Linked DNA regions of Homo sapiens: regions 2 and 3 are each reported to be linked to region 1. Evidence: microRNA targets listed by miRTarBase, many of them from high-throughput screens and not tested one by one. Region 1 holds a microRNA gene; each other region holds the end of a gene's coding sequence.
Evidence for each region. The annotated mature microRNA hsa-miR-4739 reads AAGGGAGGAGGAGCGGAGGGGCCCU and lies in region 1 at 1,697-1,721, opposite strand. An mRNA with a match to its seed (bases 2 to 7 or 8) in the 3' UTR can be bound and repressed. Matches are read on the target gene's strand: a 7mer-m8 pairs with bases 2 to 8, a 7mer-A1 pairs with bases 2 to 7 and ends in A, and an 8mer does both.

Region 2: the mRNA of CAPN15 is a reported target of hsa-miR-4739. Seed matches in the 3' UTR shown: 7mer-m8 at 701-707, 7mer-m8 at 835-841 and 7mer-m8 at 1,483-1,489.
Region 3: miRTarBase lists ATP6V1A as a target of hsa-miR-4739. Seed matches in the 3' UTR shown: 7mer-m8 at 2,569-2,575.

Annotation. Positions count from the first base shown.
Region 1 is chr17:79,705,520-79,708,672 of GRCh38, forward strand. MIR4739 (microRNA 4739) reads right to left here and starts at 1,730; the gene lies at 1,657-1,730. LINC02078 (long intergenic non-protein coding RNA 2078) reads left to right here and starts at 1,747. Exons shown (of 2, transcript NR_109783.1): 1 at 1,747-2,137; 2 at 2,953-3,153. RefSeq lists enhancers at 1,589-2,210, 2,211-2,832.
Region 2 is chr16:552,985-556,137 of GRCh38, forward strand. It overlaps CAPN15 (calpain 15), which reads left to right. Exons shown (of 14, transcript NM_005632.3): 13 at 1-57; 14 at 355-1,652. The coding sequence ends at 532. Among named protein-coding and RNA genes, the nearest start is that of PRR35, 5.8 kb to the right of the region's middle.
Region 3 is chr3:113,809,050-113,812,202 of GRCh38, reverse strand. It overlaps ATP6V1A (ATPase H+ transporting V1 subunit A), which reads right to left. Exons shown (of 15, transcript NM_001690.4): 15 at 147-2,868. The coding sequence ends at 2,776. Among named protein-coding and RNA genes, the nearest start is that of GRAMD1C, 28 kb to the left of the region's middle.

The DNA of each region.
Region 1 (3,153 bases):
CTGCAGGACCCTATGAGGTGGGAACTTCTCTGTTGCCTTTTCCCAGCTGAAGGAACCGAAGCTCAGACACGGTGAGTGACTTACCCAAGGTCACCCAGCCACTAAGAGGCCAAGGGGACAAGAGAACTGAGTGTAAGGAGGAAATCAGGAAGAGACTGACAGGAAGTGAGCAGGGGACAGTGCGCAGCTGTCCTCGTGATGGGCCCAGCCTTGAAGGCAGCGTTCCGGCTCCCAGAGCTGGCAGCAGGAAGACATTGCTGGAGGGAGCAAGAGGTGGGGCGGGCAGGAGGGCCACCTGAGCCCTGAGCCCTGAGCCCTCAGCGGGCTCCTTGGAGAGTGACCTGGACCTTAACATTGACCCTGGCACCCCGCCTGCTGTTCCCCATGACGCCCCACGCCCCCACCCTGCGTCTGCTCCTGTGACTTGAGGAAACGGACCGACCTCCTTTAAAGGAGGGGTTCCTGAGCCTGGGGAGCGTGACTTCCGAGCCTGTCCGAAAACACCAAACGCCAAAGACACCGAAGCTGTTCCACAGAAGCCGCAGCCGATCGAAAGCCATTGCTGCACGGGATTTTCTTTGGAATTGGTTTTTGGTTCAGGTATTTTTTGGATTAGCATCATCAACACTAGAACTCAACATGAGAAATCCTCCTGGCACCCTCAGACCCCCAGGATCCACCCGCAGCGCCCCACCCCTCGGGGGTCTAAGGACGGGGCCACGGGAGGTGCTCCCCACGCCTTAGCTAGACGCAAGGCCCTCCCGCAGGCTCCCGCAAGCCCATCAGGGCTGGGCGTTTCCCACCCCTTCCCACCCCACCCATCCACCTTCCGTCCAAGCAGGAGTGCAGCCTGCTTGGGCTCAGCGTCCCCTCTTCTGAGAAGCAGCCCGGCCCCATCCTGAGCGCCCCTGGGCCCACAATCCCTCCTCACGTGTGTGGGGCTGGCCGTTGATGTCGCCTGGGCTGGGGGTGCACCTGCAGCGCAAACACGTGACTAAGCATCTTCCTGTCCCGGGCCCTATCAGCGTTGGGCCCCAGGCAGCCCCTCCAGGGGCTACAGTCACCCACCCACCTACAAAGCCCCTCATCTGCAGCGGTGGCTTCATTCCCGGGACGCGCCCCAGGCTCTGCTCAGTCATGGCCCCCAGACCCTCAGGAGCCCCCGAAACATGATGACCTCCAGCCACGTGCCAGCTGCCAGGAGGAGGCTTCAAGACCCCAGATGAGCACCCGGCTGGCCATGCCCCAGGGACAGAGGACCCAGTGTGACAGAATCCGGCCTGGGCCACAGCCACCCACACAGTCCATCCCAGTTCAGCCCGAGGTGGACAAGAAAAGTCCCACCAGGGACTGGAGCAGATGGGGCGGGCTCCGGACCCCTGCCTGGTCCACCATCTGTCTTGCCAGTCGGTCCGTCTACCCAGGCAGCCCCTCCTCCCGGCCCACCATCTGCCCGGCCCTGCTAGGCCCTCCTCCTGGCTCCTCCAGGGCCCTCAGGAGGAGACAGAGCTGGAGCCAGGGCCCAGACCTCCACTGCCTTGGGCCCGCCCCATCTGGCACCTCCAGAAGAAGGGGGCGGCAAGAGCTTGGCCAGGGCAGGGGCACTCCAGGGCAGCCGAAGGCCCTTGCCAGCTGTCTCATGATGAGATGAGCAGAGGGAGGGGGAGGGGAGGAAGGGAGAGGCTCTGGGAAGACAAGGGCCCCTCCGCTCCTCCTCCCTTCTTCCTCCCCTGCCCACGTGGCCTGGGCGGGAGGGACACGCCGATGGGAACATCCCAGCTGGTCCAGGCCTCTGCTCCCCCCAGCTCCTCCTCCCTGGCGGGCAGCTCTTCTGGGCTCCTGAGGTGCTGCGCAGCCCCTTCCCTGGCCCTGGGACCCCCAGTGCCTGAGATGAAAGAGGAGTTGCTTCCATGGACGGTCCCAGTGCAAGCTGGGGGGCGCTGGCCTCAGGACACCAGGCATCCAAGACATAGGGACACCAGAAGCCCCGGCTCTGCCTCTGAGGTCCAGCAGCCCCAAAGCCCCTGCTCAGAAGCCAGCGATGGGAGGGCAGGGCCTGCCTGTGGGACCCATCATGGGCGCAGCAATCGCCAGGCCCTGGGCAGACAGCAGCACAGCCTGTGAGTCCAGGGCTGGGGTAAGTCGGCAAGTGCACCCCCGGAGGTGGAATGACAGGAGCTCCTGTGGAGGACGCAGGCGACCCCCGCCCCTCACTCCACTGTGAGGCCTGAGGATGTACAGGGGCAGCTCTCCCTGGCTTATGAAACGCCCCCACCCTGCTGCCCCTCTGGGTCCTCCTCACCCTGTGGCCTGCAGGGTCAGGAGCATGACTTTGGTGTCAGGAGAGAGGCTGGCTCCTGCCTGTGGCGGGTGTTGGGGGAGGAGTGGGGTTCATTATAAATTACGCTCCCCTCGAACCCGGCTGTTAGGTGAGGGCAGGGCTGGGATTCACCCTGCTCTCTGCAGGGGAGGGTCAGCCCCCAGGTGCTCCTGGGTGGGTCTCCACGGCAGGCCAAAAGGGCAGGCCCTGGGCATGTCCACCCCCTGTCTCTGGTCCCACAGCCCCCTACTTGCCACCTGCCCTGAGCAGCCCCCAGGAGAGCACCCGCAGGGAGGATGCTGAGGTGCTGGAGGGCAGGAGTCCCAGCTGAGGCTGTGACCCCAGCTGTGCTCCCCGTTCCCTCTTAGGACCAGCAAAGACCCAAGGACAGGCGGCCAATCAGGGCCCGGTGTTTACCCCTCCTCCCCCACCCCCATCACGGGCCTCCCGCAGGACCCCCAGGAAGAGCAGCTTCCATTGACCAAGGTCGGGGGACGCCCTCCCGCTGACACTCACTCTCCACGGATCCTGGAGCCCACGAGTCCCCTCCCCACCTCCACTGCACTGGGCCCCCCGCAGGCCCTGGTGGGGGTGGCCACGGATAACCACACAAACATGCATTTTCCTTGTAGGAGCAGGCAGGTGACAACCAGTGTCCTACTTTCCTGCATTAAAACACCCAAATCAACAGGACGGAGAAGGCCCGGAAGAGGGGACCTGAGGGAGCCAGCCGGGCGCTCAGCCTGCTTCGCTGGGATGCTTGTCGAGGTCGGGACGGCACCACCAAACTCACCTCTGTGCGCCCTGCGGGGCCCAGGAGACTCGGTCCTCCC
Region 2 (3,153 bases), not on the chromosome of region 1:
CGTGGTGTCCACACGCGGCAGCCTGCGTACCCAGGATAGCGTGCCACCCCTGCACAGGTGCGCCCCCGCCCCTGCCCCCCCACCCCTGCACAGGTGCCCCCTCCCCTACCCCGCTGCACCCACACCCAACTCGTGCCCCCCCACCCCTGCACAGGTGCCCCCTCCCCTACCCCGCTGCACCCACACCCAACCCATGCCCCCCCCACCCCTGCAGAGGTGTGCTCATACCCCTGCCCCCACCCCTGTACGGGTGTTTGTCACCCCACTCCTGCTCCTGCCCCTGTACAGGTGGGCACAGCCCTGCCCCCATCCCCACCCTGCCCTCCACAGGTCCTCACCGGTCCCCTCCCCCAGGCAGGTCCTGGTGATCTTGTCCCAGCTAGAGGGCAACGCCGGCTTCTCTATCACCCACCGCCTGGCACATCGCAAGGCAGCCCAGGCCTTCCTCAGTGACTGGACAGCCTCCAAGGGGACCCACAGCCCCCCACTCACGCCAGAGGTCGCCGGTCTGCATGGGCCCCGACCGCTGTGACCACCATGCCTGGGGCAGGGGCTGTGCACAGACGGACCCCCCACCCCCACACGCACTTTATGAGGGAGACCCCGACAGAGGACGCTTGAGCCAGAATCTCAGGACCCCGCCCAGGGAGCTGCCAGCCCAGGGCTCAGCTTCCCATGGGCCCCCCGCCCCCCTCCTTCCCCTCCCTGAACCCCACAGTCCGCCTGGCCAGGCCTCCTGGCCGCCACGCAGAATACCTCGAACCAGGCGGGCTGTGAACCAGCCCCGCTCACCTGCCAGCCCCAACACCCGACGGGGGCCGAGGCCAGGCTGCCCCTCCCTGTGGGCTCAGGGTCTCCTGCGGGCTAGGCAGCCAGGAGCTCTGTCCGCAAAACCAAATCTGGGTGTCAGAGGCCAAGACCCTGGGGTGGGATCAGGGACCACCCCTCACGGGGCATAAGGTCAGTTTTCCCCCAGAGCCCGGGTCCCTGTCCCCCACAGGGCAGGCGGGGTCCCTGGAGCCCTGGTGTGGAGCGGCGAGTCCCGGGGCGGTGCCTGTCTCAGAAGAAGGGGCCCTTGGCCAGCCCCCCAGCGACACTATGCAAATCCTGGAGTGCCCGCCAGGATCGAAGCCATGACTGGGTGCAGGCGGGCGCCAGGCCCGCTGTGGGTGGGCACCAGTTCTCAGCACCGCTCACTGCTGCCGGGCACACTGGGACCAGCAGGCTCCTCAGCCAACCCTGTCCCTCGGCCCGGCCCTGCCAGAGAGGGACCCCAGCACATCGTGGGCACGGGCAGGGCTCAGCCGCTCCCACCTCCCCACAGAAGCCCAGGAGTGTGTGGACGTCTGAGCCCAGCTTTCTGCGTGCCCTCCTGGCCCCTCACTCCCGGCAGCGGGCCGGCCTCGCCCCCACTCCCCCTCCTACCCCGGCAGGGGCTTCCGGGGCCTTTTCACCTGGAGAAACATTCCCACTCCCCTTTGGCCTCCCTGTACTCTGAGCTGTGAATATTTTTAACCCTGTAAATACGGCCAGCTCTTGTGACACAGAGACTATTTTATCAATTGTCAGTCCCGTTCCTTTACCATAGGATTCTCCACAGTGGCTTCCGACTCAGGCTCCAATGGACCAAATAAAAGCGTTTTGTTTTGTAATCACGCCTCCTCCTCCTGCTGTTGCCCCGCGCAGGGCCCTGTGGAAGGGCGGGGAGGTTGCAGGTCTGAGGGGTAGGCCCTGCCCAGGCATCCCGGGCAGGCGGACGGGTGGGGGCCCCTGGAGATGGCCGTGGTGGGGTGACTCACAAGCTTGTAAGGGGCAGCCGGCCCTGCCAAATGGACGCAGCCAGGAAGGACGGAGTGACTGGGCGGGGGCAGGGGTCAGACCCTGCGGCCGCAGCCCCAGGGCCGGGAAGGACTGGGCAGACGGGACAGCAGCGCATGCAGCTTCTTCCAGCGAGGCATCCGCACGGGGGGCTCTGTCTGAACCCATCAGTCACCCGGCAGGAGCAGATGGAGTGAGGGGGCGCGTGGGGAGAAAAGTTTCCTGTCCCCTCCCAGCCTCGTCCCAGGGTGGCCTCTGCCCCCACACGGGTGCTGCTGAGCAAAGCGCCCGCTCGGAGGCTCTGCTGTCTCCCTGGACGGAGTTGGGGGCTGGGGTGCGGCCGGCGCGGGGTAAGAGGCTGTCACGGGCAGCGTATCGAATGTGAAAGCAATTAAAGCCACCAGCAGTGTTCGCTCCGGGCGGGCCTCGGGCGGCGGGGAGCTGCCAGAACACATCTCACCTCGGTGCCCGCGGACGCCGGCCCTGCTGCTCCGCGACTGCGCCACGTCACACTCCTCCTGTGGGTGGGGGCCGGGCTCGTGCCCGCTCCTGTTTGGCACAGAGCTGGCTCTGTCTAGTCCTGGGGTATCTGGGACCCCCGTTCCTCCCGAGACCCTGCTCCTCTGTCCCTGGCCCCACCCCCACCACCACCCACCTCTCTGGCTTCTGCCACCCCAGTCCTGGGGTGGCCCAGGACAGAGGCCCACAAGAAGGACCCTCCTTCTTGCAGGAGTCCCGCACAGCAGGCAAGGGGTCCGTGCCCACCCCCTCAGCTGCCCAGAGTCCCCACTAGCCCAGCCAGCAGCCTCCTCTCCACTTGAAAGCCCCCGGGAGCAGCTCCCACAGGGAGGTGATGAGGGAAAGGGGGGGCGTCTGCAGAGGACTCAGGGTCCCACAGCACAGACCCTGCCAGGTGTTGGGCCGGGGCCACGTGAGGGGCTGCTGCGGAGGCCTGGAGGAGGCGGCTGGCAGCAGGTAAGGGGAAAAGATGCGAGCGTCCTGCAGGCAGCAGGGAGGATTGGCTGGGCAGGACACACAGCCCTGGCGCGGGGCAGACCTTGGTGGCAGCTGTCGGGGCTGACTCCTTCCCACTGTCACTGCCCGGCCCCCGCCCAGCCCTCCCCTCCCTTCTCTGTGCAGGCCTCTCCCCTCCCCCGCATCTCCTCCTGGGTCTCACCCCCACCAACAGCACCATCTCTCTGGTGTATCTGGTCTGTCCCAGCCCTGTGCCCCCACGGTGCCCTCTCCTGGCCCCTCTTGTTGGCGCTGCTGGCCACAGCCTTCCCGGGGTGGGCAGTGGCAAGTTCTCACTTATGAGGCATCGCTGTCAGAAGC
Region 3 (3,153 bases), not on the chromosome of region 1:
TCCAATTCAATTTCATAATCTTAAGTAACAATCTATAAAAAAGGAAGGAAAAAATTTTAAAAGGTCATACCAAAACATTAAGTCAAGATACAAGGTACATATTTTCTAGCAGATTGTGCCATAAAAAAGAGAAAAAGAAAAAAATGTTAATTTAAATCCACTTTTTATTCTTTCACAGATTTTAACAATTATACACAACTTTTAACATAAAGGTAGTGAAATCTCAAGGATAAGGAGGCAATATATATGGCCTCTTCTATTCGTTATTCAGGATGGAAGGAAATTTTCAAAGTACAGTGTGTGAGATTCAACACTGGAAAAATACATATGAAACTTGTTTAATTGGCTCCACTTAGGACCAGACACAGCACAATAAATACAGAACTGCATCATCTTTTTAAAAGATCATTGTAATTTTAACACATTCTTACTAAAGAAATACATACTATCAGTGACCGATCTGAAACTCTGTAACAGGTGAAGGGAGACTTACGATGAATATCTGAGCATAGGTTCGCTAGCATCTTCACACTCATACATAAACATTCTTAAAGGGAATAAGAATGATTTCAAATTCAAAACAACAACAACAACAAAAAAACAAATTTGGTCAAACTTTCTTCATCATACCATTCATTGCTATCACAATCCTAGTTTGCTGGTAGGTTTAAGAAAGGAATAGAAAGTTTTTGAAATCCTTTTAATTTCTACCAGTCTTAGGGCCTCTTGAGTAGGCCACTTTGGAAGCAAACTGATTAAACAGCACCATCAAGTCCGTATCTCAACAAACCATTGCATAATTTCTGTCAATGTTCTCAAAGGTTAAAACAAGTTGTATAGAAGAATACCTTTCCTCAATAGCAGGCCACTGTAAAAACATGTAATCTGCAAGAATTTAAACAAAACTATCCTGAATTCTCTACTGATTGCTTCTTTCCTTAATAGACCAAGAGATAGGCATTACCTAAAAAATTAAATAATAATATACTGAGGCATAAAATAAATACTTTATTTATGCTATCACAATTTGGGTATTTGAAGATTGTTAGCCATGTTCACACACCCTTTCCTCTTCCCAAAGAGGAAGCAACGGTGCCAGCACTATTGGTCAGAAAGAGTTAATGGGAAACTGTTGCTCTCAGAGCTGTTCTGCAATATGCAGACACATAAATTATTATTTTAAACATATACTTAAAAGACGGATAAAATGATTTTTTTTCATGTGACCCAGATTCTGTTATCAGTAGATACAAAATTAATTTCATTCCTATTAGGATGGAAACTGGTATGCTGCTGTGGCCATAGATATTCTGAGAAACCTCTTAAGCCAGTGAACCAAAAACCATATGAAAGAAAGTAATACTTTCTATGATTGGTCAACTGGCTGTTCAAAAATTCAACAAGCAAACAAACATGCAAACATGTGACATATGTCATTATTTTGTAAAAACATAATGCCACTCTGGCCCCAGGAATCACTACAGCCCAGCTGGTCCTTAAAGGTGCAAACAGCCTTTAATTGCTACTAAACATCTTCTCTGGTATTTTACTGCCCATCACACTTGCCACATGATTCTCAGAAGCTTAGGCTTCCAAGATGTTTAAGGAAAATAAACAGGGTGTGATGTGGATCAAGTTTTCAGTGATTGTTTTAAGTGTCATTTTAAAAAGAACTTCCTAGTAATGAAGTATGTAATAGTCCTTGATATTAAATTTTTTCTAGTGAAATAAACTATGCTTTAATAAGACAATGTTGCTCTAAGTTTGACCGCCTGATTTTTTTTTTCTCTTTTTTAGAGGGTACTATTTCATATATTGTGTGAGCCCCACAAATGTCTATTTTAAAAAGAGTATAGTCCCTGGCCAGGCGCGGTGGCTCACGCCTGTAATCCCAGCAGTTTGGGAGGCCGAGGTGGGCGGATCACCTGAGGTCTGGAGTTCGAGACCAGCCTGACCAATATGGTGAAACCCCGTTTCTACTAAAAATACAAAATTAGCTGGGCATGGTGGAGCATGCCTGTAATCCCAGCTACTCGGGAGGCTGAGGCAGGAGAATCACTTGAACCCGGGAGGCGAAGGCTGCAGTGAGCCAAGATCACGCCATTGCACTCCAGCCTGGGCAACAAGAGGGACACTCCGTCCCCAAAAAAAAAATAATAAAAAAAATAAAAAATAAAAATAAAAAGAGTATAGTTCCCAATGGTTTCTCACAAACATTCCTGATTTATACTGGGGGAAGTGATGCATAATTGGAACATTAATCATTATGTTTTTGAAAATTAAATATTTCCTGCAAAGCAATTCCTTTGCAAAATGCTAAGCTGCCAATGAGCTTACCACAATAGAAATTGAGTCATTTCACAAAGTACCTGTTCAAAAGTTATAGAAACCTGGCCTTCCATTCCAAATTCACTGCAAAGAGAGTACATGCAGTAGTCCTGTTTACAATTTAATAGAGATGAGGAAAGGGTACACCTAGGACAAAGAGGGTCATCACCCTACATACAAGTTTACAGTAGTGTAACCAGAATGTATATTTACTATATTCACCACTTCAGATAAAGGAAGAGGGAGGCCCTTCACAACACTAGAACAAAGGAATGTTTGTTTTATATAAGACCTACCAAAAAAACAGGGAAACAAATAACACACATAGGCACTAGTCTCAAAGCTGCACAATAAAGAAGCAAAGGGTTTGAGATGAGAAATTCAGGAAAATATACACATAGGAGCTTGCTGAGGAAAAGGAAATCACAGTTGTAATCTTCAAGGCTTCTAATCTTCAAGGCTACGGAATGCATTCTGCATGTCTTCAAGAAGTTGTGCATAGTCGCTTTTGATCTTTGCCTCACCATCTTTCAGTGGATCCTGAAAGAAGACATTACAAATTCAACTCGCATTTGGAAAATAATTTTCATTACGTATGTTAAGTTACTTTTTTTTTTTTGGAGGCAGAGTCTTGCTCTGTCACCCAGGCTGGAGTGCAGTGGCACGATCTTGGCTCACTGCAACCTCCACCTCCTGGCTTCAAGTGATTCTCCTGCCTCAGCCTCCCAAGTAGTTGGGATTACAGGCGCCCACCATCACGCCCAGCTAATTTTTTTTTTCATATTTTTAGTAGAGACAGGTTTCACCATGTTGGCCAGGCTGGTC